Linked DNA regions of Homo sapiens. The protein of the gene in region 2 interacts with the protein of the main gene of each other region in a pairwise test. Each region holds a gene or a part of one and is shown on either strand. Other genes may lie near its edges.

Region 1 (15,874 bases), on a different chromosome or scaffold from region 2:
CATTTAAAGTTCAGAAACAGCTTGACAGTTTCTTAAAAAAAGCCTGAGATGTTGATAGAGATTGTATTAATCTTATAGCTCAATTTGGGAAGAGCTGGCATTTTAACAATATTAAGTCTTCTGATTCACGAACCAGGTATATATCTCCATTTATTAATGCCTTCTTTAACTTCTCTCAGCAGTTTTATAGGTTTTAGTGTAAAGTCATGCATATCTTTTGCCAAATTTAACCTTGAGTATTTCACATCTTTGATACTATTTCAAATGGCATTTAAAATATTCTATTTCCTGTTGTTTGTTGATTTTTAGATATTCACCTAGTACCCTGCAACACTGCTAAAGTTACTTTTTAGATCTAGTAGCTTTTTCATAGATTCCATCAGATTTTCTACATAGGTGACCAGGTCATTTTATCTCTTTACTTCATGAAGTTTTACTTCTTCTTTTCTTATTTTTAAAAAATTTTAAATTAAGTTAAATAATCATATCTTTGGATGAAAATTATTATATTTAACTGTCTGGGTTAAAGTGAGTTCTTAAATATATTTTCATTAATCATTATTTATATTTGCATGTTACTTAATAATTGGCAGGGTTGGCTGGGCACAGTGGCTCACGCTTGTAATCCCAGCACTTTGCGAGGCTGAGGCAGGTGGATCACCTGAGGTCAGGAGTTTGAGACCAGCCTGACCAACGTGGTAAAACCCCGTCTCTACTAAAAACACAAAAATTAGCCGGGCATGGTAGTGGGCGCCTGTAATCCCAACTACTCAGGAAGCTGAGGGAGGAGAATCACTTGAACCTGGGAGGCAGAGGTTGCAGTGAGCCAAGGTCACACCATCGCACTCCAGCCTGGGCGACAGATCGAGACTCTGTCTCAAAATAATAATAATAGGCAATGCACATTTTTTCTTTCTCTCTCTCTCTCTTTTTTTCTTTCTTCTTTTTTTTTTTTTTTGAGACAAGGTCTCGCTTTGTCACCCAGGCTGGAGTGCAGTGGTAAAATCTTGGCTCGCTGCAACCTCTGCCTCCCAGGTTCAAGTGATTCTCCTGCCTCAGCCTCCTGAGTAGCTGGGATCACAGGCGTGTGGCACCACGCCTGGCTAATTTTTGTATTTTTAGTAGAGACGGGGTTTCGCCATGTTGGCCAGGCTGGTCTTGAACTCCTGACCTCAGGTGCTCCACGTGCCTGTGCCTCCCAAAATGCTGGGATTACAGGCATGAGCCACCATGCCCGGCCTTTTTATTTCAATTTTCACAGCAACCCTGTAGATGATGATGATGATTTGTTAACTGGACAAATAAAAATTGTGTATATTTATGATGTACAACATATTTTGATATATGTATATATTGGGGATGGCTAAATCAAGCTAATTAACATTCACATATTTTTTATTTTTTTTTTACTAAAAACACTTAAAATCTACTCTCTCAGCAAGTTTCAAGTATATAACACTGATAGGGTTTGGCTCTGTGTCCCCATCAAATCTCATCTTGAATTGTAACTCCCACAATTCCCACATGTCATGAGAGGAACCCAGTGGGAGGTGACTGAATTATGATAAAGACATACCTGAGACTGAACAATTTACAAAGGAAAGAGCATTAATGGAGAACTCAGTTCCATGTGGCTGGGGAAGCCTCACAATCATGGCCGAAGACAAGGAGGAGCAAGTCCCCATCTCTACAAAAAATTTAAAAATTAGCTGCGCATGGTGGCACACACCTGTAGTCCCAACTACTTGAGAGGCTGAGGGAGGATTGCTTGAGCCCAGGAGTTCGAGGTTACGGAGAACTATGATCGTACCACTGCACTTCAGCCTGGGTGACAGAGTAAGACCTTGTCTCTTTAAGAAGGAGGGTCTTTCCTGCACTGTTCTTGTGATAGTGAACGAGTCTCGCAAGATCTGATGGTTTTAAGAAAGTGGCAGTTCGCCTGCACGAGTTCTCTCTTTGCCTGCTGCCATCCACGTAAGATGTGACTTGCTTCTCCTTTTTTTCAGCCATGATTGTGAGGCTTCCCCAGCCACATGGAACTGAGTTCTCCATTAAACCTCTTTCCTTTGTAAACTGCTCAGTTTCAGGTGTGTCTTTATCAGTAGCATGAAGATAGACTAATACAAATACCTTATTTATTAACTATAGTCACCATATTGTACAATAGTTCTTCTGAACTTATTCCTATTAACTGAAATTTTGTATCCTTTGACCAATCTTCCCTCCCCTCCACTCCCCTTTACTCCCTCCCTCCCTCATTTCCCTCCCTCCCTCCCTCATTTCCCTCCCTCCCCCCTCCCTCATTTCCCTCCCTCCCTTCCTTCACCTGATACCTGTGGTAATTGTGTCTTCTTTTCTAATTCAGGTATTTCGTGCTGTAAGTTTCCCTTTAAGTACTGCTTTAATGACATTCCATAAATTTTGATATATTTGTTTTCATTTTCATTCAGTTCCAAGTGCTTTTTAATTTCCCATTGATTTCTTCTTTGACCCATGGGTCACTGAAATGTATATTATTGAGATTCTGAAGATTTGGGAACTTCCCAAAAATCTTTCTGAAATTTATTTCTAATTTAATTCCACTGCTGTCAGAGAACATGCTTTGTATGCCTTGATTCTTTTAAAGGTACTGAAACTTGTTTTATGGCCCAGAAGATATTAATATTTATCTTGGTAAATGTCCCATGTGCACTTGAAAAGAATGTGTATTTGCTGCTGTTGGGTGGAGTGTTCTACAGATTGCCTGTTACATACAGTCTTTTCCTTTCACTCCAGATCTTGTTTTCCTCTCCAGAGAAAATGACTATTAACAGTTCTTATTGCATCCTTCTAGAAATTCCTTATGGAATATGAGTAAATATGGGTATTAAGCTACACTTAAACTTTTAAAAAACTCAGGCTCACATTACCCATGTAATTCTGCCTCCTGCTTTTTTTTTTTAACCTATCACAATAGCTCAAAGAGAAACCCATAGTAGCACAAATATATCTAACTTATTCTTTTTAACAGCTGTATAGTATGCTACTGGTGGATGCACCATGATTGATTTAACCTGTTTCCTGTTAATGGCATGGTATCCAGGTTGTTTCCAGCCTTTTGCTATGATGCTGCTGCAATAAATATTCTTTTTTAAAAAAATAAATATTCTTGATGTGACTGACTTAAGGACTTCGAGATGGGGAGATGATCCTGGATTCTCTGAGTGGGCCCAGTGGAATCACAACAGTCCTTATAAGGGGTCGGGGGCAGGAGTTAGAGAAGGAGATGAGACAATGTAAGTAGAAACTGGAATGATGCAGGGTCATGAGCCAAGGAAGGCAGGTGGCCTCTGCAGGTAGAAGGGCAAGGAAGTGATTCTCCTCTGGAGCCTCCAATACTATAACCCTGCTGACCCCTCAATTTTAGTTCAGTGAGAGCCATGTTGCATTTCTTACCTCCAGAACTGTAAAATATCACTGTGTTGTTTTAAGACACAAAGGTCATAATAATTTGTTACAGCAGCAAGAAGAAACTGATACAGTCTCCAAACATTTCTGATTGTACCATACTCATCAGCAAAAAATTTTCTACTGCACAGATCCATCATATATATTGTAGAGCAAACATAAACAGAAATTGAAAAGGATAAAGGGGATACAAGAAGTTTCAAAATGCATTTTTGTATGTATTTATGTACTAACAGTACAAAACCCTTGTGGTTATCACTAAAATTATTTGCATAATAGTATTAATAAATTTTTAATCAGTGAAAAAAATAAGTATTCTTTTTACTTAAGTGTTTGTACCTAGGTCAAAGTTTATCTTTCGGATAAATTCTTAGATGTCGAATAGTTGAGTTAAAAGGTCTATGCATTTTAAATTTTGTTAGATGTTGCCAAATTACACGGAAGAGCCTTCCCAATTTCTTCTTGAGAGATTAAAAAAATTCTTCTTCTCTTGGCAAAGGAAGTTGATCTTAGAAGTTAAAAAATCCTTCAACTTCTTTTTAGATAATTTGTATCATATTTAAAAATGTAAAAAGAAAAAAATCCTTAAGTAACCAATGATTTGGTTTTTCTCTTAAGTAACATGAGATGTTCAGATTCTGCCCTCTATATCAGCAAATTGCCCTGTAATCATCTGCAAATTGTTGGCACTTCACACACACATTAATGCATGTCAATGCAGAGTGTCCTGTGGCGAGGATGGGGTGCATGGGGGATGTGAGTGGTGAGAGCACCAAAATACTATATCCAGGCAGTGCACACAGTGAGTGTGATCTGTCTGTCAGTAAACCTCTAGAGCCTCTGGAGTTTGGAACCAACCACTCAAGGATATCCTGGATAATTTCAAAAGTAGAGTTTTTATGGGAAATTTAAAAAGAGTGCATGAATGTGTGTGTGTGTGTGTGTGTGTGTGTGTGTGCGCGCGCGCGCGCACGTGCACATGTGCACACACATATGCTTAAATTCCTTTACAGTGAACACTAGGAAAAAGAGGCAGGAGACCTCAGCTACAGCTGACCATTATTTACGTCATTAGATTTTATGTCAGCTTGTTAGACACACAGTAAAAACCATCTCAACCACTTACTGTTGAACCTTTGATCAAGGGATAAAGGAAGAACAGAGGGAAACAAGACAGAAAAATTTCAAAGACACAATGAGCCTTTATATTCACTCCTGATGGGAATGAAGAGAACCTTCCCACAAAACTCAAATTCTGGGGAGGTAAGTTTTTCGTTTGCCATTCAGTTCACCATTGAATTATAGACGGATAGTGGCATCTACTCGATGGTTTCCTGCTTATAGTTCCTCTCTGCCCTAATTTCTCATCAATGTTTTGTTTTTATCTCCTTTGTTGAAATGAGATCGGAAGAACCACATTCTGAAAATCAGGATGGCTAAAGATAATTCAAGATGATGACAGAGAAAAACTTTGTTAAACTTCAAACTCTTCAAAGAAAGTTATTAAATAGGTACTATGCATCATTAAATATTCTGGGATGAGATCACAATGACCAAAATCAATGCTCAAGCTCTAAACCTTTTAAAAAGTTGACTTTATTTAACATGCTTTGCCATATTGTCTCCATTTGTCATCAAACCAAGGATAACTCACTCATTCCCAGTGATGGAAAATTTAAGGGCTAAAATCAATAGCCACACCAAGAACCCCAGGAACAAAACAGGTGGGTCTTCCCTATTGTTCCTTTTCTAACAATCAACCAATTAATATTTGTTGATGACTGTCTCCACACCATCGTGCTAGCTTAGCTTCTGCAAAGCCCTACAGCATCAGTAGGTTTCAGAAAAGAAGACAAAGGAACGAAACTCAGTGATATCTACTGACATTCTAACGTATTGCTGCCATGTTATTTAATGTTGATAAGCCAAAACCACCTTGTAAAAGAGAAGATGTGCATAGCAGGTCTGGGGAATGAATGAATGAATCCACAGGCTGGTGCATTAGTTGCATAGGGATGTTACATACTAAGTTCTGTGACCACAGAGGGGTCAGGACATGGACTCTGCCACATGTTGCTCATAGTGTAGGTGGCATCCATATCAAGGTTGTGGACATTTATTGTTTTTGCTCACCCATTGTCTCTTCTGTCTTCTTGTAGTTACAATGCTCTAGGTTTTTTGAGGTGATCACCTCTTCCTCACTCTCAGTCCCTGGTGGTTGAGGTGAGGCTGACCCCAACTCTAGCTCCAGCCGTAGGCATGAGCCCAAAGTCTGCTGCTTCATCCCAGCATTCCATTCCACTGACCACAGAGATTGGTTTGGGGATGAGCATGTGACCTAAGCTGGGCCAATGGGAGCTTTACTTGGGACTTTTGCAGGAATGGCTAAGAAGGAGGAACTATGTTTGCTGGGATGGATTAGCAGACAGGATTGAGCTCTGGGTAGCTGGTGGCCATCTTTGCCACCATAGGGGAGGAGCTTGCCTGAGAACGGAACGAACCCAGGAAAATTCAGAGCCAGAAGGAAGAGAGAAACTAAGTCTCAACATTGTCATTGGAACACCTGGACCTAGCTCTAAACCCCTGTACATCTAGGTTAGATATGCCTAAAAGTTCATTTGCTTTTTCTTAAACTAGTTTGAATTGGATTTTCTATGTCTTTTGAAGCCAAAAAATCTTGGCTAATCAAAAGGGTTTCCTAAAACTATTGTGCCATCAGAAACAAACATCCTTAAAGATAACCCGATTAAAAAATGGGCAAAGGACATGAACAGACACTTCTCAAAAGAAGACATACATGCAGCCAACAAGCATATGAAAAAATAATATCACTGGTCATTAGGGAAATGCAAATCAAAACCACAATGATATACCATCTCACACCAATCAGAATGGCCATTATTAAAAAGTCAAAAAATAACAGATGCTGGCAAGGTTACAGAGAAAAGGGAATGCTTATACATTGTTCATGGGAATGTAAATTAGTTCAGCCACTGTGGAAAGCGGCCTGAAGATTTCTCAAGGAACTTAAAATGAAACTACCATTTGGATATATACCAGCAATCCCATTACTGGGTATATATCCAAAGGAATATAAATTTTTCTACCATAAAGACACATGCATGTGTATGTTCATTGCAGCACTATTCACAATAGCAAAGACAAAGAATCAACCTAGATGCCCATCAATGGCAAACTGGATAAAGAAAATGTGGTATATATACACCATGGAATACTACGCAGCCATAAAAAATAAGATCATGTCCTTTGAACCAACATGGATAGGGCTAGAGGCCATTATCCTAAGTGAATTAACACAGGAACAGAAAACCAAATACCACATGTTCTTACTTATAAGTGGGAGCTAAACATTGAGTACACATGGATACAAAGAAGGGAACAATAGACCCAAGGACCTACTTGAGGGTAGAGGATGGAAGGAAGGTGAGGACTGGAAAACTACCTAGTGGGTATTGTGCTGATTATCTGGGTGACAAAATTATCTGTACACTAAACCTCCACGACATGCAATTTACCCATGTAACAAACCTGCATGTGTACCCCAAACCTAAAATACAAGTTGAAAGAAAAAAAAAATGAACATGCTTAAGGATGTTTTGAAGGATTGTATAATTCTTGAGGACCCTGAGTCGCTATACTTGAACCCCTCTTAGACAAAGAATCAACATTTGAAAGCCTCTGCCCTTCTGTTCTCAAACGGATTTTAGATAACATATTCCTGGCCGTACACAGCCAGGCTGTGTACACAGTTCCTGGCTGTGTATGGCCAGTGCATAGCAGGAGTGCTGGTTATGGGGGCCAACAAACTGGGATTGGGATCCTAGCCCCACCAATCACTAGCAAGCTCCTTATCACTCTCATCTTCATTGTTCTTATCTAGAAAAAGGGTGGGGATAATATAAACCTGTTTTTGTGAGGATTATGCCTCTCCTTATCACAGTTTGTAATGAGATATTTGTATGATTATTTGATTCCTGTCTGCAAAGCTTAACTCTACACTGCACTTTATTTCCCAAACTAAAGGGAGGGCCTGGAATGCAGTGGGAGCTTACCAAATATTTGTTGAATAAATATATAAGTAAATGATTAGAGAAGACCACACAGGTATGTGCTCAGCACGAAACAGATGGGTATTTTATTTATTTATTTAATTTTTTGAGATGGAGTTTCACTCTTGTTGCCCAGGCTGGAGCGCAATGGCGCGATCTCGGCTCACTGCAACCTCCGCCTCCCAGGTTCAAGCGATTCTCCTACCTCAGCCGCCCTAGTAGCTGGGATTACAGGTGCCTGCCATGACTCAGGCTAATTTCTGTATTTTTAGTAGAGATGGGGTTTCATCATGTTGGCCAGGCTGGTCTCGAACTCCTGACCTCAGGTGATCCACCCGCCTCAGCCTCCAAAAGTGCTGGGATTACAGGTGTGAGCCACCGTGCCCAGCTGGTAATATTATAAATACTACCAGGGTTCATCAACTCCAAGGCCTACATGGGCCAGGCAGTAATGAACATGGGGTAAGCTAGCTAGATGTGGAATTGGGTGTGTCCTTTCTAAAAAGAGCAGACACACTTAGTTTTAACCAAGTGGTGTTCCTTGGGAATGTGGCTACTATGGCCAGATCTTCTTTCAAAAGAAGCCAGAAAATAGAATTTTTAGGTATTTATAAAATTTTCTGACTTTTAAACGTAAATGCAATTAAACACATGCACAAACAGGCCAACAAAACATGTCTGAGAGATGGATTTAGCCCTTGGGAGCCTGTTTGTGACAACTGGGACCCATATCCAGGTCCCTCCTTCAGAGAAGCTCTCAGGCCACATCCATGAATGACCCTTGGGTAACCTGTTTGTTACAATTGGGACCCATGTGCGGGTCCCTCCTTCATAGAAGCTCTCAGACCACAGCCATGAATGGCCCCACCAGTGACTGCACCTACCAGCAAGTGACTCGGAACTCTGGTTGGGGACGTTGTGAGATGCCTCCTGGAGGACGTAGGTGGACGTGGAGAGGGGCGAAGGGCAGATGCTGCTGGCCGGGACGTAGGGAGGGTTGTAGGATGAGCCGTAATACTGGGGGTACTGGCTCTGGGGGAAGCCGGGGTAGGAAGGATAGTCCTGGGAAGAGAAAAACAAACCAAGGACATATGTGAGGAAGCCTTTCTGGGCTCGGGCCGTTGGTCAGCCTGGCCACTCTGTCTCACCATTAGAATAAAAGCTCTCTGTGGGCAGAAACTGTCTTCATTTTGGTTTCCCAGAAGCAGACCCCGGGGCAAGGATTCAAGTGCAAGGAGGCTGTTTGGAAGGTGAAGGAGACACCAGCAGGGGATCGGGGAAGTGAGAGAGATGCGGGAGAGCAGCCTGCATAGGTGCTTCTGTGGTAGTGACCAGAGATGAGCCCTATGAGGAAAAGCTGAGATGGTCTAAAATCCACATCTCAGAACTGCCTCTCCCACGGGTCAAGGGAGTGGAGGGGTTTATACATCAACTTGTTGGTCTTTGAGAGCTGCACCCAGGGGGCTTTAATTCCCAGGCACTTCCTGCCTGCCCCGTGCACTGGTTCTAGAAAAGCCCCTTGGGCCCAGGCATGCAGATGCTGGCACCTGGAGGTCCACAGGCCACCCTAAGGGATATAGACGTGGCCCTGATGGCACCTGTCCTGGTCACTATTGTATCCTCTGCACCTGAAACAGTGCCTGGTATATGCAGTAACTCAACAAATACTGGTTAAATTAATAAACAAATGCATTAACAATTAAGACCACACTGCACCCCCCCCCCACGACACACACACAAACCTAGAAGACCGCACACACACCCACACGACACACAAACCCAGGAGACTAGGTGACATTTTATGTTCATGGGGAGGAGGTGCAAATACAGCAGCACCTACACAGCATTAGGGGTCCAGAATATTCTATGAGGGAGTCATGGAGATCAATTCAATAGCTGCCAATCACCTTTGATCAAGCTTTGTTTAAGCAGACCAGCGATCCCAATTCTCCAACAGTCATTGTTTCAAATATCCTGCCGCACTATCACCAAACCAGTGCTTCTCAACCCTGCACGGAACTCATGGAACGTTCTGCTTCCTGGGCCCCACCCCAGAGCTGGGAGTCAGAGTTCCTGGGGGTGGGGGTTGCGGGGGTGGTCAGTGTTTTTGAAAAACACAGATTTAATGGTGAAATGGAGGGTTAAGAACCACATCTTAAAAAGTACTGTTTTATTTATAAGTATTTTATCTATGTACATAGTACATTAGAAATAATGCAAAAATACATGAAACAATTTTTACATTTGCTAAGTTTTAAATTATTTAGATTCTCACTGGAAAAGAAATTGCGTATTCCTCAGATCTAAATATGTTAAATATTCCTAAAGCCCATCTACCCCAGGGTGGTTCTGTTTTAAATGGTAGCCTGAAAGCAGGTGAACCTTTTGTTTTGAAATAATTTTAGGTGTACAGGGAAGGTGTACACACAGCAGAGTTACTGCACACTTTGAGCAGATGCGAACTCTTAATTCACTTTGTAAGTGACACCAAGAGAATCAAAGTACTAGCCAACATTTACCTATATAGAGTTGACTTTGCTCTATTTAACAAGTATTTATAAAGCCCCCACTGTGTGCTGGGCTCTCACCACTGGGGATGCAGAGGTGAGCAAGATATACGGTCCCCCTTGAGAAGCCCATGGTCTGGTGAAAGAACCCACCCATTTGTATTGATATATATCAGATTCAACAGTCAATGGGTGTCCTGAGTCCAGGTCAAGATGGAACATACTTGTAGATCTCCATGACATCTCAGGAATCTTCTAACAATTCCTACGTCTCCGCCTGTATACTGTGTCCTTCCAGCAGCCTTTTGCACAATCTAGCCCCTGTAGTCTCCAAACCCAGGGACTAAGAGGCAGGTTCCCAATGGGGATTGTGTGTGTCGTGGGCTCTCTGGGTGCCCTGATGTAAGGGGAATATTTCCAGAAAGAACTGAGGAAAGAATCGGGAGGGAGCCATGTCTACCTGGTGCACACTCCCGAAACCGGCTGCGTTGCCCAGTCCATTTCCTCCTTGATAGAACCCTGTTGTGCCTGTGGGAAGGAGGAACAGGGGTACAGGTTAGGGTTCTTGTCTTTTTTTCTCTTTAAAGCAGTTGTTAGCATTTCATGAACCTCCCTCCATGTGGCTTCAAGGGTGACAGCTGGGCAGAAGCTCTGGTTCCTAGTGGTAATGCCTCACACCAGCGTTCCCAAAGCAACCCAGGTGAGACTTGTTGACACTAATCCTCTGGTGACGCCTACCACCAGCATCACCACGGCCTCCTGGGTGCTTCCAAGTGCTTGCTGATGCGGCCGTGGCTATGGCTCACGTGACCCCTAAGTCTCTGGATCTTCCTCTGTCCGGATGGCATGTTGGCGGCCCAGACCCAAGAGCCAGGTTAGGTTTCTTACAGTCGGAGAGGAACATGCAGGAGGAGGGTACCATGGCCAGGTGGGGTCTTTGAGGTCTGACAGGCTGGGATGGAACCTGTGACTTTGGTTACCAAATTTCTCTGAACCTCAATTTCCTGGATAGATGAAGAAAATAAACGGTGTCCTTTTCAAAGGGCTATGGTGAGAAATAAGTGAGATAGTGCCCACTACCCAGATCCTGGTCCTTAATAATTATGTTTTTAAAAAATTTGAGGCCAGGTGTGGTGGCCTCAGATTTTTCTGTAATTCCAATGCTTTGGGAGGCTGAGGTGGGAGGATCACTTGAGCCCCGGAGTTTGGTCATTTAAGTGTTTCACTTTTTAAAGAAATGGCCAAACTGTTTTCCAAAGTGGCTGTGCCATTTGCATTCTTACTAGGAATTCACGAGAGTTCTAGATTCTCCAGCACTTGGTAGTTTCAGTCTTCTTGATTATGGCCACTCTAGTAGTCTGGTCAACATAGTGAGATGTTGTCTCTACAAAAAAATTAAAACATTGGCTGGGCACAGTGGCTCACACCTGTAATCCCAGCACTTTGGGAGGCTGAGACGGGAGGATCAGGAGGTCAGGAGCTCGAGACCAACCTGGCCAACATGGTGAAATTCTGTCTCTACTAAAAATACAAAAATTAGCCAGGCGTGGTGGTGTGTGCCTGTAATCCCAGCTACTAGGGAGGCTGAGGCAGGAGAACTGCTTGAACTCGGGAGGCGGAGGTAGCAGCGAGCCAAGACTGTGCCACTGCACTCCAGCTCTGGGTGACAGAGCAAGACTCCATCTTGGAAAAAAAAAAATTCCAGGTGTGGTGGCGCATGCCTATAGTTCCAGCTACTTGGGAGGCTGAGGCGGGGGGATTGCTTGAACCTAGGAGTTTGAGGCTGCAGTAAACTACAATCTCACCACTGCACTCCAGCCTGCGCAACACGGCAAGACCCTGTCTCTAGAAAACAGTAAATAAAATAAAAAATAAAAATTATTTATTTAAAAAATTGTGGTATATATACAACATAAAATTTACCCTCTTAACCATTTTAAAGTGTACAGTTCAGTGGCATTAACTACATCCACATTATTGGGTACTCATCACCATCATTCATCTTTAGAACATTTTTCTTCTTGTAAAATTGGAACTATGTACCCATTAAACAACAATGCACAATGGCATAGATGTACAACATCCAATATTGGGCTATTATGGATAATGCAATATAAGCATTCACATACAAGTCTTTGTATGGATATATATTTTCATTTCTCTTGGGTAAATCCCTAAGAGTAGAATTACAGAGTTGTGTGGTAAGCATATGTTTACCTTTTAAAAGAAATGGCCAAACTGTTTTCCTAAGTGGCTGTGCCATTTTACATTCTGACTGGTAATGCACGAGAGTTCTCGATTCTCCAGCACTTGGTCATTTCAGTCTTCTTGATTACAGCCACTCTACGAAGTATGTGGTTGTATCTCACTGTGGTTTTAAGTAGCATTTCTCCAATGACTAATGGTGTTGGGCATTTTTCATGTGCTTTTTAGCCATTCACATATCTTCTTTGATGAAATATCTACTCAAATCTTTTTCCCATCAAACCCTAGTCAAATCTTTTTAAAAAATTAGGTTTGGCCTCTTATTACTGTTATAAGAGTTCTTTATATATCTTGGACACAAGTCCTTGATCAGATACATGATTTGTGAATATTATCTCCCAGTTTGTGGCTTGTCTTTTTCTTAATGGTGTCTTTTGAAGAGCAAAAGATTGTAGGTTGTTGATTTTTTTCTTTGATGCATTTTGCTTTTGTTGCCTAATTCAAGGTCACAAAGAACTGCTCTTGTGTTTTCTTCTAGAAATTTCACAGTATTCTTGTATTTAGGTCTATGATCCAATTTAAGTTAATCTTTGTATACAGTGTGGATTAAGGACTTAAATTCATCTTTTCATATATATATATGTGCATATATATGTATGTATATGTGTGTATATATACATATACACACACACAGTTGTTCCAGGACCACTATAAAAAGTCTATCCTTTCTCCCACTGATTTTATTATTTTTTAAAATTTTTGTGGGTACACAGTAGGTGTATATATTTATGGGGTACATGAGATGTTTTGATATAAGTATGAAATATGATATAAACACATCATGGAGAAGGGGTATCCATTTCTTCCCCCACTGAATTACTTGGTACATTTGCCAAAGATAAACTGACCATAAATGAGAAGGTTTATTTCTGGACTTTATTCTGTTTCACTGATTTATCTATCCTATACCAATTCCATCCTATCCTTATTACTGAAGCTTTATGGTGATTTTTTTTAAAAAACAGAATCTCGCTCTTCTCACCCAGGCTGGAGTGCAGAGGCGCAATCTAGGCTCACTGCAATCTCCGCCTCTCAGGTTCAAGTGATTCTCCTGCCTCAGCCTCCCAAGGGATTACAGGTGCCCACCACTATGCCCAGTTAATTTTTTGTATTTTTAGTAGAGATGGGGTTTTACTATGTTGGCCAGGCTGGTCTTGAACTCCTGACCTCAGGTGATCCACCTGCCTCAGCTTCCCAAAGTGTTGGGATTACAGACGTGAGCCACTGAGCCCGGCCTATGGTGAGTTTTGAAACCAGGTAGTATAAGTTCTCCAACTTTGTTCTTTTTCAAGTTTGTTTTGGCTTTTAGTTACTTTGCATGTCAGTTTCTACTAAACACCATCTGGGATTTTGGTAGGAATTGGACTGAATCAACAGACTTCTTTTATAAGATGAGGCCAGATTAAGAAAGTTAGGGCTGGATGCTTCAGGACCCGGAAGCCTGGAGCATGGTTTGCATCTGCTGAAGGGGCATGGACTGCTGTCAGAGGTTTTAAAGCAGCAACCGCACAACTGCAGGCACATCTCTAAACATTCACACTAGTTGCTGGTTAGAAAACAAATGGCTACTCAAATGAGCGGTGACTTACATCAAACAAGAAGCTTCTAGAGCCCACACTACTTTTTATAAAGTGGCTAAAATGAACACAATGGACTCCAGGAAACTTACTTCCTGGGGTGAGGTAGGAGAAGATAAGAGGATAATAAAGGAACCACAACACCTCTAAAATTATCCAAGATGATGGATCCATCAGAACCATAGGATCTCAACCCTTGTTCTGCATCAGAATCTCCCAAAGAACTTGAAACAAAAAACAAAACAGAACAAAAAAGCAGTCTGAGGGCCCTTCCCACAGAGAGTCTGATTTGAGTTAGTCTAGAGTTGGGCCAGGCATCAGTATATGAAAACAACAACAACAACAACAAACCTTTCTGGGAGATCCTAGTACACACTGAGAATTGAGAACCAATAGTCCATGCCAAATTCTTTATGGTCCAAATGGGGAGACTGAGGCACAAAGAGGGAAGGCAAACAGTGCTGATCCTGTGCTTTGGTCTTGGCAGCAGAGAAGGCCTTAAGCCTGTCTCATGCTTCCCAGCTCAGGGCCTTTCCATGGCAGCACATGGCTTCTCTACACAAAGATACTGAGGCCATTAATTAGTTCATTAATTCATGCATGCATTCATTTATTCATTCCACTGAGATTATTGAGTGCTTTATGCACCAAGCACTGTATTAGGCACTTTGTATATAACTGCACTTAATCCTCACATCGATCCTGAGAGGAAGGTATATAATTGCCATTCCCATGTTCCATACAGAGAAACTGAGGCTTAGGAATGGAGTTTTTCCCAAGTCATAAAGCTAGTAGGCTGTGAAGCTAAGATTAATTCTTTTATTCATTCATTTATTAATCAAACAAAATGTGCCAGAATAAGGGAAAAAGAATAGGAATGACAGCAGATTTCTCATCAGGAACCATGGAGGCCGGAAGGAAATGGCACAACATTTTTCAAGGGCTTAAGGAAAAGAAACATCAACTCAGAATGCTATATCCAGAGACAATATCCTTCAGGAATGAAGGGAAAACTAAGACATCCTCGAATGAAGGAAAACCAAAAGAATTTGTTACAGCAGCTCTACCCAGAAAGAATGGGTACAGGAAATTCTTCTCATAGAAAGAAAAGGATAAAAAAGCTGGAAACATCAGGAAGGAAGAAAGAAAAAGGAAAAGAATAAAAATATGTGTAAATAAAGTCATTTAAGATAGTTCCTCTCTATGTGGTTGTGCCAACAGCTCAATATACAATTTGGTTCGTTACATTAAATTTTTTTTTAATTTAAAAATTTTTAATTTTTGTGGGTACATATTAGGTGTATATATTTATGGGTGACATGAGCTATTTTGATAGAGACATGCAATGTGTAATGATCAAATCAGGGTAAATGGGGTATCCATCACCTCAAGCATTTATCCTTTGTGTTATAAACAATCCAATTATACTCTTCCAGTTATTTGAGAATGTACATTTAAATTTTTGTTGACTATAGTCAACAAAATCCCACTCTATCCTCAATGTCCTGCCCAGACACATTTAGCAGAAGGTCTAGGTCAGTCTATTCCATTCGAGGTCATCTGTTTGGTTCTGGTTACCATGGTGACCCTACTTGCAAAAGCTTAGGAAGCCACCTGTCTCAGAAGACTCCTGACTGCAGTGTTTTCTCTTCTGATTTCTCTTTTCTTTTGCATGAACCTTCTGAATGATGACTCAGGGCAGGTTTGGAAATAAACAGGCTATCGTCTTGTCCCTTGGTATGCTTTCTCCAAAATAGTCTCTTGTTTATTTTCATTTTGTGACCCAGGGTCAGCTGAAGAATGGACAGCTGAACAAACTACAGCGTGAGGGCAGCCACAGAGTGCCTGCAGTGAGAAATCCATCCTGTGCCAGAGAGGACCCAGGAAGAAGGGGGCACGTGGCCCCTGAAGTCTTGTGCCACAAGTTGTGGTCTCTGGAGGGTTTTGACAAACAGACCCAGCTTGGTGCTGGAATGTGAAACACTGACCTCTTTCTTCCTTCTGGCTG
Region 2 (16,682 bases):
ACTGTCTGTTCAACTCACCCAGACAGTCTAAGATTTGATCTTACTTATTTTAACTGAAAATGCTATTCTTATTCCTATTAAATGTCCCATTTAAAAACTCAGCTATTAGTTCATAATAATTTTCTATGGCAGTGCTCCTCTAGATTACACAATTAAAAGTATTTCTACTTTTCTCCTCCCCCAACATACATAACTCATTCTTTCTGCTCAAATTTGTTGCCTTTAAAATGTGACCTGTTTGGAAATTTTCCAAATGAGAGAAAAGGGGTTAGATCCACATTAAATTATTATCAAACTAAGCACTTTGGCTTTCCCTGTGGTTTTCATATTTTTGCCCTATGTTAGATAGTAACTTAACTCTTTCCATAACTTGGAACAATGATGAACTGAATAGTATGCTGCAGGAATGTCTTGTTTTAGTACCATTTTGCCTAAAGAAATGCAAATGTACAGAATGAAATTTAGAACAATTTTTCCATTAATTCCTTCAATAAGCTGACATAGACCATAGTTGTGGTAACAAGAGAGTTGTGCATAAATTGATTTTTTTGGGGGGGTGGTAAAACCATCTTATAGGAAGCAGACCTTTAAAGCCAACAATTACTACTTTGGTTTTGTAAAAATCTGGATTTTCAGATTTGTCTACAAGAAGGCAAACGTGCATTAAGATCTACCCTTCCTGAATTCAAGGGATTATGCAAACTCCACTGCCAAATTCTAACCATTTCTATTTCTTTAAAGAGAAAATGACATAGAGGATCCAGGCTTGCTTAAAGTCAGTGAAGAACTAATATATCAGCCTCAGTTTTCCTGAATTTCATTTAAGTGCTTTCTCTGGAAGATTGCTGTTAGTAAAGCCACAAACATATAAAATAAGGCTTACTATTATCTTCACAAATAAACCCACACATTTAGGGGGTTAGTATATATGCTGAGCGATAGAAATCCAATGGCATATTCCTCTGATTTTCTTTTAGGTCTGTTAGTCTTCATTATAGGAGGAAACAGGATTCAAACATAATTGATCCGGTCTTTTTAGCTTGTTCTTCTAAAACATTTTTTGGTCAAATAAATAATGCTTAGGTAAAGTGTATGCATTCTTACCAACTGCTAGACTAATTTTGTGTTCTTAGCAATTTTATTAATTTTTAATATTAAAATGCCAAGCAGTGAGTTATTTTGTAAGCACTGATTGACTTATCATATTTCTGTAATTGTAGAACTGGCAGGACTTGCTATGAACTGTATTTTTCCATTCAGTTGTTAGTAAAATAAAAGCCCATCCTCATGATGCAAGGGAATAAAGCAACCTGGATATGACATGGGTATTGTGAAAGAGGAGAATCACATCAAGGCTACTCTACAGCTTCGGCAGCTAATAAGGTACCTGAACAGAAACATCAATCTATAGCTATCACCAAATGCGTCACTTACAGCAGCTGATGAACACATTTGCTGGTGCATTAAGGTACCAAATGAGATTGTTACCTTGTGAAGCTGCCACTGACACAGGGGGCAGCTGCAGTGGAGAGAATCCAATGCTCCCATTAAGGAACTGGCTGTTTGCTCCGGAATTGGGGATCTGGACAATGCCATACTGGTTAATTTGCACTGGTGTAGTAAAAGTCACTACAGACCCTCCATCTTGGGAAGCCACTGTTTGAATGCCTTCTCTTTTCACCTCAGTGCTGGGTATCAGGCCTGGGAATGAGACAGGGACACTGGGGCTGTAGGACGTGGTGGTTGCTGAGTTAGCAGAACTCTGGAGGACTTTGAATTCCTTCACGTCCTGGGAAGTAGACCCCAGTATGTCAGTCATGGATATACCATTGCTCACAATGTTTGATGACATTTTTGGTGGGTTCAATGCCACTGCCTGTGTATTTCCCACATTTAATCCATTAAGGATAACTCCACTGGGTCCCTGAATAAAAGAATTTCCATTAAGGAAGACAGGTGAAGTACTTGCAGGTACCAAGCTTCCATTCAACAGAACTCCAGAAGAGCTTAATGATATCTTAGCATTTCCAATTTGTTGCATATATACTGGCTCCATATGACTGGAAAGGCTGAGGTTGGTGATGCCATCAGATGAACTGGAGAGTGGGTGAGGAGATAAATCCTCATGTCCCTTGCTGGATTCATCTTCAGTGCTGGGGTTGCCATCTGACTCACTGTATGGAGGGGGAAATCAAAATGTTCAGAAGGTCAGGGGGATGACATTCTACACAGTGCCACTTGTTTGGAAAACCAGCTTCTAAATCCATTAAAGGCAGTATTTAAGGAAAGCACAGCAGGATATCTGCTAGTCCTATTTAAACTAAGAGGCCTTTCAGCAGATTCCGACCAGCCAGAGAATCTGGGAAGATAAACTCTCAGATCCCAATCATTTAAAATAACAATAAATTCAGGGAAAGTCCAGACATCTGCAAGATGTAAATTCAGCATTACAGGAGAAGAACATATTTGATTTTACAGTGTAGAAGTGCTATTCCTTACTGTTACATATGCTGCTACTGACACCATAGAAAAAAACACCTTAAATGAGGTGGTCGGTCTTTCCTGTTTAGGAACTCCTTCCCCTCCCCTCAAACCAATTCAGATTAGTGTTATCTTGGAGGTAAATGAAGCTGCCAAAGGAGCAGGAGGTAGGAAGTGCTCAGCTTTTCTTTTTTGGTCAGTTAGTTAACAAGAGATCGTTTTCTCACCTGCTCCCAAACTTCTACTCCACCAGACTGACAACTCTCTCATTCAACAAAGTGGCTGTCCTTGTTGTAGGAAAAGGCACTTTCAACCCAAGAACAGTTATGTGCAGTCGCCTTTGAATCCAAAGGAAGCCAAAGGGGCCTATTTAACAAACACCATCCAGTGCCCTGGTGAGGTGGGAGGGAAAGGGTGTCACTCAGAGGCCTTCTAACTATTAGACCTCTTCCCCAACGTCCTTGGTCCCTCTGTTCCAGGCAGGACCCTGTTCCTCAGCTCTCTGACTTGGGAGAAATACCAAATCGGGGTTGGGGGGTGGGTAGTGATGGGGTTTCCCATTTGGTCTGAGGCTGGGAGGGAGAGCAAACGAGAGCAGAACAGAGGCGTTTTGGAAGCGCAGCAGGACTTGGCCCAGCAGAGGATCCGACATCCCCGCAGTGCCCCGCGGTCGGTTCGCTTTCATGCCGAGGGGAGGGGATTACCCGGGCTTTGGGCTGCGGGGCCAGGAGCGCAGAAAGCGCTTTGATTTACAAGCTGAGGCTGAGCCGCCGTCGCCGTCTGCGAGGGTGACTCACCGGGGGTGCGGGTGGGAGGTAGATCCGGAGAGGGGCCTAAACCAGGCAACTGGGCCGGCGGCGGGGTGGGTGTGGAGTTTATGGGGTGGGGCGGGGGGGACGAAGAAGCCAGCAGTGGAGCGTGGGGGAGTCCCAGGGAGCGTGCCCGGCTCGCGAGCGGAGGCGGCGGAGCAGCTGGCCTGCTCGCGGTGCCCCCTTGCCACCCTCTGCCCCGGCCCTGCGGATTCCGTTGGTTTCCGAGCGCGGGATCCGCGGCCTCTAGTGGGCGCAGGGCAGGTGGCTCGGCGTAACCAAAGCGCCTTCTCTGGACCTCTCCGCATATCTGCGGAAGGCGCACGCACATCCCGGTGCACCTTTTGTTTTGGTTACCGCGAGGGCCGGATAGGGCACCAAGCCTCCCTCCCAGCCTTGGGCGAGGAACGCCGGAGCCCGAGCCGTCGGACCCCCACAGGGGCCCAGAAGCGGCAAGGGCGGGCTGAGACCGGCTCTGGAATGCGCTGGTGATCACCTTCACCTGGCGCAGGCGGGCTGGATCCCCGGCTCCCAGTTTGCTTCCCCGAGAAGAACCTTCGAGCTGCTTTTGGATTCTTTCTCTCCTATCCCCGCGGGGCTGGAGACACCAGGTCTTTAGGCGACCTTCTCCTTACTTTGTTTCGTCCAACAAAACACACAGACGCACACACCAAGTGTCTGACTCGGGAGGACGCACAAAAGAGGTGGAAAATCCGGTATTTTTTTTACCAGAGGGGGAAAGCAGTCTGCCAGGCAAAAAGCTCAAACCCAGTGGGGTGGGAGCGCCCCCACTCCTTTGCTGCCGCCCGCCGTAAGCCGGCCTGCCCCCCACCCATAACTACCGTACCAGGAGGGAGCCAAGCAGCGTTCGGGGGCCGAGGGAGGAAGCAGCCCTTCAGCCCTGCTACCCCGGCTGCGCTGAAACCCGATCCTAAGGAGTTCAGAATCAGGTTTCAAAACATGACAGAGCCGAGCTGCACCAGCACCCCACGTTGCCGCGGCCGCTAAGGGAACCATAGGGGCAGGGTGAATGATTAACTCTGTCATATGAAACCTCGACGTTCCGAGACCCCTTCTGCGCCGCCAGTCCCACAACACTCTCTTCCCTTCACCAGAGCAGCCACCGCGACCTCCAGCGCAGGCCCGGGGGGCGGCTGAACCCTGGGGATCCGGGAGCGTGCGCGCGCGCCAGGCCCGGTGTGACCTCGCGGAGGTGCAGACCCCGGCCGGCGCCGGCAGTCTCTGCGGGCCTCGGGCGGCAGGGAGAGCTACGGTGCCGGTGTCCACATTTGCTTCGTTAGCCCCTCCAGAAACGGGGAGAGGGTGGCAACTTCAAAGCCAGCGGGATGGGGGTGGGAAGCTGGGCAGCAGTGACCAGCCGAGGTGGGGGCGGGGACTGAGACCTAGGCGGGCGACCAGAAACTTCTGGGGGGAGAGGGGGAGGGTAAGGAGGGAGGTTCCCCCGCCCCCCGCCTCCGCCGCCCCCTACCTCTGCCGGCCGGGGAGCGAGGTAGGGGGCGGGGAGAGGTGGGCAGCCGGACCAGGCTGGTGGGGAAGGTAAGCGCCATGTTTGCGAGCACTTGGAGGAAAAGAAAGCCGGGAAGGGGGTGGGGGAGAGGAAGGGGGAGGAGGAGGAAAGTTGGCGCTCACCTTTTGGACTGGGTCTCGGAGGGGTTCCTGTCGCGCTGCCGGCGGTTCTTGAACCAGTTGCTGACCTGGGTGAGGGAGAGGCCGGTGATCTTGGCCAGGTGCCGCTTCTCGGCGGGCGAAGGGTAGCGATTCTGCTTGTAGAGCTCCTTGAGCGCGTTGCGCGACTTCTCCTTGAAACAATACACCGTCTCCTCGCCGTCCCAGATGGTGCGGGGCAGGGGGAATTTCCTGCGCAGCCGGTACTTGTCTACGGCTCCCAGCGGCCGGCCGCGGGCTCGCTCGGCCTCGGTGTAGCGCGCCTTGTACCAGAGCTGCTGCAGCAGCGGGTGGTTGGCCGACTCGAAGCTGTGGCTCTCGAGGATGCTGTAGAGCTCGGGGTAGATGCCCTGGTGGAAGGCCACGAGCGCCCGCGCCTTCAGCAGGCTCTCGTTGCCACGTAGCAGGTCGCTCTGGGGCAGGGACCACAGGAACCGGGCCAGGCGGTCCAGGTTGCCCCCCTGCTGCAGTGCCTCGCACACGCAGGCGACGTGGTCGGGCGAGAAGGCCAGCGGGGTCTGCGCGGCGGCGGCGGCGGCGTGGTGGTGCCTGCCCAGAAGTTCCGAGTGGAGTTGTACCTGATCCGCCGCCGCTCCGGCCGCCGCCGCCGCCACTGCCCCTTCCTCTCCGCTCACCCTGGCGGCAGCGGTCGCGGCGTCCCCCGGCTCCAGGGGAAAAGGGGCTGGAGCCGGGGGGCTCAGCCCTACCGCCGCGCCCCCCGCCACTTCTCGGTGCGCCTCCTGCCCTTCCGAGGCGCTTTCCATCCCATTCTCTTGCTTGATGTCCGCCGCACTTGCGATCTGCCCGGTGGGGGAGGAAGAGGACATTTTTTGTTGTTTATTTTCCTCCCTCCCTCACTCCCTCGCACTCTTTTCCTCTTTCTTTCCTCCTCTCTTACTCCTCCTCCTTCGTCTCCCTCCCTCCTCTCCCCCTCCGGAAAGCCCACTCCCTCCCTCCTGGTTTCGGCTGTATCTGGCCGATCAGGTTTCCCCCCGGCCACGCAGTCACCATTAAGATAGCTGTTAGAGCAAAGTAGTGTAAACGGATAGCTGCTTTCTGCCGTTCCCCCAACGTGACTCCTCCGGTTGCTGCATACTATATGGCAGTGGCGGCCGGGCCGGCCCGGCCTAGCCACCTCATTGGCTATTTCGCATTCAGAGGGAGGAGGAGACACAGTTTCTATCCCTGTCGATCACCCGCCTCCCACTCCACCCCTCGCCTTTCCCTCCCCTCCTGACCCCCAGGCACCTATACCTGAAGGAAAACACCGACATTCTTTCCAAGCCACGCTCCTGGGCGGGAAATTACCTAATGTGGCCTGAAAACTGGACAACTCTTTCAAACAGAGGCCCTACAATTCCAGAGGGAATATTAATTGTGTGGCCTTAAGGTCTGGATGGTTAAATTTTTAACAAAGAGACCACCCTCAGCATCTAGATGACAAAACTTCAGAGGACAATTCAGAAGCCCCCCAGTATGTCCCTGTTCCCCATTCTCCCTCTTTTTGGATGTCTTTATCAAGGATTTTGTATTCAAAACGGTCAAAAATAAAATGACACTAGGAAATGTTCTAAGGGGCAAGCATTTACAGTAAATTAAAATTCCAAAGAGGGAAAAATGCTTGAAAACCTTATAATTAGCAGCATAAATAGCACACTGAGAAGACAAAAACAAGAAGCCTTCAAAAAATGTACTTAACCTTAAGCCACGTGGAGGGCTGGCAACCCAACTGAGTTGAACATGGTATAATTAAACATGTAGAATATTAAACCATAAGTTTATCCTGGATGAGTCGTGTGGAAGAGATCTAAGCTTTAAATATGGAAATTTAAGTTTTCTACATGAACTTTTTAATGTAAGTATATGAGTATTTCTTTTTTAACGATGATAGGCTAGAAACACTGAATGTGCGGGTGTCATCCAGATCAGTGCAGGATCAGAAGCCCTTTTCCACAGCATAGACAGATTGCCCTCTGGTTTGATGCTGAAGTGGGGGTAGAGTCTTTTGTTGTTTGCAGTTGTGTCTCTTTCCTTTGTAATTTGCACAAGATCTTAATTCCAAAAGGGATGATCCATTTCTGCTTCTTTGATTACTGTAGGTCAGTTGGGTTTGCCTGCTGCTGCTCTTTCTCAAAATTCAACTTTTTTTCCCCCCGAGATGGAGTCTCGCTCTGTCGCCCAGGCTGGAGTGCAGTGGTGTGATCTCGGCTCACTGCAAGCTCCGCCTCCTGGGTTCACGCCATTCTCCTGCCTCAGCCTCCCGAGTAGCTGGGACTACAGGCGCCCGCCACCACGCCCAGCTAATTTTTTTTTTTTTTTTTTTTTTGTATTTTTTAGTAGAGACGGGGTTTCACCACGTTAGCCAGGATGGTCTCGATCTCCTGACCTCGTGATCCGTCCGCCTCGGCCTCTCAAAATTCAACATTTTAATGACATCATCCTAACCTTTGCTTCAGGGTGGCCTTGTATTGTGTATGCTTCCCAGCTACTCATAGCTGCCTACTTCAGCATATTACAAAGCAGCTGTCTAGGTCACCTGCCGTCATGATAAACTTGGTGAGATTTTCTTTTTTTTTGTAGACAGGCTTTATTTTATTGCTGGTCAATCAAGATGTCATTTGATGTAGGATTTAACTTGTTTTTGCATTACCCTAATGTGTTGACATCGCTGGTAGATTTAAAATTTATAACAACAGAAAAGGCCATATTATTTATTTGCTTATTTATTTATTTATTTATTTATTTATTTTTTGAGATGGAGTCTCACTCTGTTGCCCGGGCTGGAGTGCAGTGGCGTGATCTTGGCTCACTGCAACCTCTGCCTCCCGGGTTCAAGCGATTCTCCTGCCTCAGTCTCCTGAGTAGCTGGCACTACAGGCGCGTGCCACCATGCCCGACTAATTTTTTATATTTTTAGTAGAGATGGGGTTTCATCGTGTTAGCCAGGATGGTCTCGATCTCCTGACCTCGTGATCCGCCCGCCTCGATCTCCCAAAGTGCTGGGATTACAGGCGTGAGCCACCGCGCCCGGCCAAGACCATGTGTTTCTACTCCACTGGAAACATCCAGTTAGGTACCAAGCTTCAGGACAATAACTGAGATTCAGAACTTCCTTGAATTTTTGTTTGCTTGTTTGTTTTTGTTTGAGACAGGGTCTCTCTCTGATGCCCAGGCTGAAGTGCAGTGGCATGATCTCAGCTCACTGCAACCTGCCCCTCCTGGTTTCAAGTGATTCTCCTGCATCAGCCTCCCGAGTAGCTGGGATTACAGGCACCTGCCAACCACACCCAGCTAATTTTTGTATTTTTAGTAGAGATGGGGTTTCACCATGTTGGCCAGGCTGGTCTTAAATTCCTGACCTCAAGTGATCCGCCCACCTCAGTCTCCCAGAGTGCTGGGATTAGAGGCATGAGCCACCACACCTGGCCAAATTTTTTTAAAAATATATTTTTTATTTGGAATGCTTTTCATTTACAGAAAAGTTACCAAAATAGTAGAGTTTCCACTTACCTTTCACCTAGTTCCCTTTAATTTTAACATCTTACATGATAATGCTATATTTATCTAAACAAATTAACATTGGCGCATTTCTATTAACTAACCTCTAGACTTTATTTGGATTTCACCAGTTTTTTTTTTCATTAATGTCTGTTTTCTGTCCTATGATCCAATCCAGGAGACCATGTTGCATTTAATTCCTTGAAATTTTAAAGCACATTTCTCAGAACAAAGTAGACAGGATATGGTGTGGTTTAGTGGAAAGGATGTGGATTTGAGGATCAGATAGCTAGACACAGGTTTAATCCTAGCTCTTCCATTTATTAGCTACTTGACTATAAAAAGTCGACTAAGTTGTTGTGAGGATTAAATGAGATAAGATGTGCCAGAAAGCACCTGGTGAGTAATTAATCCTTGGTAAATGTTTGTTATCTTCTTCCTGATATTGCAAAGTAGGAGACTTTTTAGTTGTATATACCTAGTGAAAATTCCTTTGGCTATGTTTGGAGCCATCCCAAACCAGGTCACAGGAGTCTGCTTCAGAATTATTATCAATCAAATATAGTGCATTGACTTGGAAAACCACTTCTGCATGTCTTCTGTATATTTGCCTCTAGAGCATCAAGTTCAACAGATTATATAGAAGCAACAGTGGCTTTTTATGACATCTGTAGCCTGTAGCTAGCTACATTGCTATTCCATACCTCCAGTAGGACCAGCTGTGAAATCCACACCAAGATCCAGGTTCCTTTAGCCAGTTGACACTCAGAGCTCATTCTGCCAGCAATTCAAAGTAGACTCAAACATGGTCAGTTACATTGGAATGGAATACTAGACCTGAAGGTGTGTAGAGTTTATCCCAGAGCACTGGTTTTGCCAAATGTGTTGTAAAATTGATGAATACTTGCTTCTACTTCCTATGTGTGCCATGCTGTGAACATTGAGTCTGTTGTATTGATATGCTGTCTAAAACTGTGTTGCTCATGGAATACTACACAGCTATAAAAAAGAATGAAATCATGTCCTTTGTAGTAACATGGTTGCTGCTGGAAGCTGTTGTCTTAAGTGAATTAATCCAAAACAGAAAACCAAATACTGCATGTTATTTATAAGTGGGAGCTAGGCTGGGTGCAGTGGCTCATACCTGTAATCCCAGTGCTTTGGGAGGCCAATCTGGGAGGATAGCTTGAGGCTAGGAGTTTGTGAACAGCCTGGGCAACATAATGAGACCCTGTCTCTACAAAAAATAAAAAAAAAATAGCTGGGCATGGTGGTGAGCGTCTGTAGTTACAGCTACCTGGCAGACTGAAGTGGAAGGATTGCTTGTGTCCATGAGTTTGAGGCTGCTGCCTGGATGATAGGGGGGAAAAAAAAGTAGAAGCTAAACATTGGGTACATGTGGACATAAAAATGGGAACAACAGACACTGGGGACTCCAAAAGGGGTGGGAGGGACGAAGGGGATCAAGGGTTGAAAAACTACCTGTTGAGTACTATGTTCACTATTTGGTTGAAGGGTTCAATAGAAGCTTAAACCTCAACATCGTGCAATATATCCATGTAAGAAACCTACACGTGTACCCCCTGAATCTAAAATAAAAATAAAAATCAATCTGTGTTGTGATTTGGGAAAACAGGATTGAGGCTGGGATTGTGTGAGAGTGAAGAGCAAAAAACCAAGCTGCTTGTTCTGTGTCTTTTCCTTCCAGCTTGAAGACAGTGATGAGTGTAGGTAAAAATCTTTGGCCATTTTAGTATATTGAAGAAAATCAGGTGCAGCACAAAATTTTACACTTTGCTTGAATATATTTGATGGTTTTGCCATCAAGAATGGAGATTTCTTCATTCATCAGTGAGTTTGGGCTGGGTGTGGTGGCTCACACCTGTAATCCCAGCACTTTGGGAGGCCCAGGTGAATGGATCGCTTGAGTCCAGGAGTTTGAGACCATCCTGGGTTAACATGGTGAAACCCCATCTCTACAAAAAATACAAAAATTAGCTGGGTGTGGTGACACTCACCTGCAGTCCTAGCTACTTGTGAGGCTGAAGTGGGAGGATCACCTGAGCCAGGGCTCCAGTAAGCCATGATCATGCCACTGAGCTCTAGCCTGGACACAGAGCGAGACCCTGTCCCAGGGGGAAAAAAAGCATATGTACTGGTACTATTAGTGTATTAGAGAAATTAGGTTCTAAAGTTATCTCCCATCCATTATTATTTAGTGATGGTTGATGACATGTAGTGAATATTTCTGAAGGATCATTTATTTGCCAAACACTTACTGAGCCTTAAGTTCAAGGCACTGGGTTTGGTACCAAAGGATAGAAAGACGAATATATTGAGGTCTCTGTTCCTGAGGAGCTTAAAATTTTGTGGGGGAGATAAGACAAAGATAAGTAACAATATAGGATATGGGATTGGTGAGGATAAAGAGTCTGATTTTGAGAGGAGGAGGGCAATTGGGAGTGAATTTTTAGCTAGGTCTTTAAGGACAATAATTTTGAGAGGATAAGGATAAAGGTTAATGAGAAGCAGAGGAAACAGAATGAGAAAAGCATGGAGCTGTGAAGGTGTGTGGTATATTTTTGAAATAGTAATCCAGTGTGTCTGGAGTGTGGGTTGTATGTAAATGTGGGTTATTAGCTTAAAAGGCATGTTGGAGACAAATTATGGACTTTGAATGAAATGCTGTTTGCTGTGGGATATACAGTGGTGATGTCTGTGTGTCATATCATGGCCACCATTGATGACCCAAGATGGGCACTTGCCCCAAAACACTCAGAATCTTTTGCTGGGAGTTTTCAAACTTGTACTGGAAGAATTAAGGAAGACTAGTAGAGGGAATCTTAGAAATAATGCTTGGGAATTCTCAGTGATCAAGGTATCTGCATGTTTAGGACACTGATAAGCAGTAGGTGAGATGAAGAGTGACCTAGTGAGTCACATGGGCTACAGTGGAGAGAAGACATCCTGGCAGAGACTGAGTGCCAGATTCTAGTCATCTCCCAAGCATAGCAGCACTCTTACTTTTTTATGGTGATATGAATTTCCCCAGGATCCAGAGACCCCACTTGAACTGGCCTAGGGAAGAATTGTTCAAATTGGCAGTAAGGGAAAAGCAGCAGAGCCTCTTTGATGAAAATGTAAAATGTGAGCTTGGAGCTACTGGGAGCCATGTTTCTAAGGTTTTGGAGAAAGCTCCTTTGAAAACTAACCTGATGAGAAAGACAGAGGCAAGTGAAATGGGATAGCAGGTCTTCAAGTCCAGCCAGCTGCACTCCTGCTCTTCACATTGTTTGATATTGTGATCCAATAAATTCAACTTTTTGCCTAGGCCAGTTCAATCGGAGTTTCTGGTTCCTGAGGAAGTTCACAGCCAATAAAGGTGTCATGCCAACCCCTGTGCCAGGGGGCAGGCATTGTGATTAACAGACCTAGTAGAACCACATACATGTGGGGTGAGGGACTAAGGACTATTTCCCAAAAGAAGTGGAGTAGAGATGCTGTCCTTAGTAAAGGGAGAAAACAGTAAGTATCCTCTTCCGATGAGGAAAGCCCAACCTGGGTCCATAGCCTTGGGGCTGGAAAAGAAGGTCTGCATTTGAGAAACACTGTCCCATTCCCATAGAATCTACTGTTAACTGAGGTAGGAATGCTAGAGGATGAGCAGACTTGGGAAGAGAAATAAGGGCCTCAATTTTTCCACTTTTGGGATTCAGCTGTCTTCAGAAATGTATAGACCAATGGAACAGAACAGAGGCCTCAGAAATAACACCACACATCTACAACCATCTGATCTTTGACAAACCTGACAAAAACAAGAAATCGGGAAAGGATTCCCTATTTAATAAATGCTACTGGGAAAACTGGCTAGCCATATGTAGAAAGCTGAAACTTGATCCCTTCCTTACACCTTATACAAAAATTAATTCAAGATGGATTAAAGACTTAAATGTTAGACCTAAAATTATAAAAATCCTAGAAGAAAACCTAGGCAATATCATTCAGGACATAGGCATGGGCAAGGACTTCATGACTAAAACACCAAAAGCAATGGCAACAAAAGCTAAAATAGACAAATGGGATCTAATGAAACTAAAGAGCTTCTGCACAGCAAAAGAAACTACCATCAGAATGAACAGGCAACCTACAGACTGGGAGAAAATTTTTGGAATCTACTCATCTGACAAAGGGCTAATATCCAGAATCTACAAAGAACTTAAACAAATTTACAAGAAAAAAGTCAAACAACCCCATCAAAAAGTGGACAAAGGATATGAACAGACACTTTTCCAAAGAAGAGATTTATGCAGCCAACAGACACATGAAACAATGCTCATCATCACTGGTCATCAGAGAAATGCAAATCAAAACCACAATGAGATACCACCTCACACCAGTTAGAATGGTGATCATTAAAAAGTCAGGAAACAACAGGTGCTGGAGAGGATATGGAGAAATAGGAATGCTTTTACACTGTTCGTGGGAGTGTAAATAGTTCAGCCATTGTGGAAGACAGTGGGGCGATTCCTCAAAGATCTAGAACTAGAAATACCATTTGACCCAGCCATCCCATTACTGGGCATATACCCAAAGGATTATAAATCATGCTACTATAAAGACACATGCACATGTATGTTTATTGCAGCACTATTCACAATAGCAAAGACTTGGAACCAACCCAAATGTCCATCAGTGATAGACTGGATTAAGAAAATGTGGCACATATACACCATGGAATACTACGCAGCCATGAAAAAGGATGAGTTCATGTTCTTTGTAGCGACATGGATGAAACTGGAAACCATCATTCTGAGCAAACTATCACAAGGACAGAAAACCAAACACCGCATGTTCTCACTCATAGGTAGGAGTTGAACACTGAGAACACTTGGACATAGGGCAGGGAACATTACACACCGGGGCCTGACGTGGGGTGGGGAGATGGGGGAGGGATAGCATTAGGAGAAATACCTAATGTAAATGACGAGTTAATGGGTGCAGCAAACCAACACAACACATGTATACATATGTAACAAACCTGCATGTTGTGCACATGTACCCTATAACTTAAAGTATAATAATAAAAAACCTAAAAAAAATAAAGTAGTAAAACAAAAACAATACATAGGAAGCGTAAGTTTCATATGTATAGCATATAGAAAAATGCATAATTTTGAAGTTCAGAAAATGAAAAAAATTTGTTCTTAGTCAACAAAAATTCATAAAGAAAAAGAATTTGTAAACATATGAAGGTTCACCTTGGATGAACACGTTGGAAGGAACTTAAGCATGATTGAATTTTTGTGTTGAGACGAATGTGTTTTTAACCTTTCAAAATTATATGTTATGGTTGATAAATTATTTTCTCCTAAAAAAAAAAAGAAATGTAGGAAACTTGAGTTTGGTGGTTTTCTACATAGGCTGAGGTTCCATTTGAATTAGGAACCTGGTGCCGTCAGTGCTTTCCTCCTCAAAGCTCTCTGACCATTCCATGTTATTCATCCCCACCAGTGATAATGATGTACATTTCAGAGCTTCTGTAATGTATGAGGCATTGTATTAGGGCCTTTATGTATGTCTATGTCATGTAATTTAATCATTACAGCAATTTTATGAAGTGTATTATATGCAAGAAGGAAACAGGAACGGGAGGATTGGAAATTTGCTTCAAACACAGGTCTGACTGATGTAAAAGAAGGTTGGGCTCTTATTATTATATTGTCCCGCCTCTTTTAGATAATACTACTGCCAGTATCCTAATGCTACCATTAATAATGGCCAGCAGTTACTAAGCTCTTACTCTATGCTAGGTGTTTTAAATGAAGTATCTTTTATTCTTTACAAGTACTATCCTGAACTTAGAATTGGGAAAACTGAGGCTCAAGGTCATATAAATCATGTGATGAAGCCAGCACTTGAATTCAGCTCTCTTGGTACTAGAGACCAAATCTATAAGTGCTATTTTCTACTGTCTTTAGGTCCATAAGTAAAGCTTATCTGACAGATTTCCAAGTCAGCTGTTGCTACCATGCTTCCAAGTTAGTAGTTTCCCACCTAGGAAAAGGATAAAGCTTGTAGCATTGCTGCTTCTCACAATCTTTAGTGCTTTCTTTGCCTTAATCTTAAGTTTTGGGAGAAAGGAAAAGCAATTCACTTCGCAACGTGGTTGGGGTCTCATCTTCAAAGACGTAATTAAAACTGTCCTGGATAGCTGGGCATCATTACAGGCTCATGCCTGTAATCCCAGCACTTTGGGAGCCTGAGGTAGGAGGACTGCTTGAGCCCAGGAATTCAAGACCAGCCTGGGCAACATAGTGAGATCCCATTTCTTAAAAAAATAAAATAAAAAATTAGCTGGGACTGGTGGCTAGTGCCTGAGGTCCCAGCTACTTAGAAGGCTGAGGTGGGAGGATGACTTGAGCCCAGGAGTTCAAGGCTGCAATGAATTGTGATCGGGCCACTGCACTCTAGCCTGGGCAACAGAAGGAGATCCTGTTTCAAAACAAACAAACAAACACACAAAAATTGTCCTAGTGGCAATAAACTATAATGCCATCTGAGTGGATGACCTCAATGTAGTATTGGCTAAAAATTTTATTTGCACATATGACATATTCATTCTTTCACCAGAAGTTTCTTGTATGTTATCAGCTGAGCTTACATGACTATGCAGTTATAAAGAAGTATAAAGCACAGGCTATTAAATGGTCCAAAATATAAAGTACTAGAGTTGCCTTTGTTCTTGAAGAGCTTCACTCTGAATCATGTAACTGGTCTGGATGTGGTCTTTCAATAAGACAATAGCAGCAGCATAATAAGCCTCCGGGTCAGCATAGTAGCATAGTATTTGGTGTTACCTATTTTAGTAAGTTTATGTTTGGTTAACTCCTGTTGAGGAACAATATTATGATCAAAGAGATGATATGGTTTATTTATTAGATGAATCCTTGATGTCTTCATACTAATGTAAAGCTCTGTCACAGCCTGCTTTGATCTGCTGGTTCCTGGGTGTGGTATCCAGCTGTTTGTCAGCATCCCTCTCTATACCCATGGAAATCCCAACTGTATTTTTGGGTTTTGGGTTCCCTACCAGGTTCACTGTTTAAAAATGTGAATTGAATATTACTTTTTATTGAAAAGAACACAAGTTCTATGATGAGTTAAAATTACTATAAATGTTTATAGCTTATACTCATTGTATCAGATTATTTGAAAAATCTAGTTTGCATGTTCCCTTCTGATGGAGTTTGGGTCAGATGAAGGTGGTTACAAAAAATGTTTGACACTAAAAATTTTCACATTACACTATTGTTTGATAGTCATTCATTAATTCTTCACTTAGTCTACTTACTCATTAAGAATCAACAAATCTTTATTTTGGAGATGAATAAGATGTGTCCTTTACAGTGGGAAAGCTTATTATTTAATAGAGCTGTTTACAGACTTCAATTTGCCTTCTTGATAAATGTGATGAACATGGTTTACAATTTACAAAGATATTCAGGCTATCAGATCTTGGAATTGCAGAACTAAATTTTTCTGTATGTATTCTTATATGATTTTTTCCTAGGTATTTGGGGAAATAAATACTGTCTGATGGAGTAGATAGCTTTTTCATATTTTGTATCTGCGAATGCATATTATCAGCTGAGCTGACATGACTATGCAATTATAAAGAAGTATAAAGCACAGGCTATTAAATGGTCCAAAAGAAAGTAAGTACACCGCTCATAAATCTTTGAAATCATGGGAATGTTTCCAGACAGAACAAGATGGAATTTATCTTCCTAATTGTGACACAGTACCTTGAAAAATGCAACTGGGTGCGTGGAGATAAGGCTTTGTATAATTTGCCATTTTAAAAGTTCCCCTGTCAAATTCAAGGTATTAAGTTGCTTTATGGAAGGCTAAGACCAAGCCCTAGATGCAAGACCGGGGGAACTGACTGCCGGAACGTTTGTGTTGCAGCGCCTCGCCCCTTGCCGGTGCTCTTTCGCGAAGGGACCGTCTCTGCCAAGCGCCTGTTGGTAGGAACCTGCTTGGTCGCGTCTGAGGGGGCTTGTAGGTGGCTCTGGCTGAAACAGGCGCCTGCGAGAGTCTGTAGGAGGGAAACCGCCATGGACGATCAGGGTTGCCCTCGGTGTAAGACCACCAAATATCGGAACCCCTCCTTGAAGCTGATGGTGAATGTGTGCGGACACACTCTGT

Evidence for each region.
Region 1: the proteins of SIX4 (region 2) and EYA2 interact in a two-hybrid assay, tested with the Homo sapiens proteins (one study listed by BioGRID).

Annotation. Positions count from the first base shown.
Region 1 is NC_000020.11:47,066,863-47,082,736, reverse strand, and holds part of EYA2 (protein phosphatase EYA2), read right to left. Parts: intron 10,553-15,874; coding exon 10,485-10,552; intron 8,580-10,484; coding exon 8,402-8,579; intron 1-8,401. UniProt on the Homo sapiens protein: Functions both as protein phosphatase and as transcriptional coactivator for SIX1, and probably also for SIX2, SIX4 and SIX5.
Region 2 is NC_000014.9:60,718,272-60,734,953, forward strand, and holds the start of SIX4 (homeobox protein SIX4), read right to left. Parts: upstream 6,081-16,682; 5' UTR 5,988-6,080; coding exon of another isoform or gene 5,985-5,987; 5' UTR 5,804-5,984; coding exon 4,941-5,803; intron 2,874-4,940; coding exon of another isoform or gene 2,852-2,873; exon of another isoform or gene 2,837-2,851; intron 2,175-2,836; coding exon 1,489-2,174; intron 1-1,488. Other genes in the region: MNAT1 (CDK-activating kinase assembly factor MAT1), read left to right, coding at 16,592-16,680. UniProt on the Homo sapiens protein: Transcriptional regulator which can act as both a transcriptional repressor and activator by binding a DNA sequence on these target genes and is involved in processes like cell differentiation, cell migration and cell survival.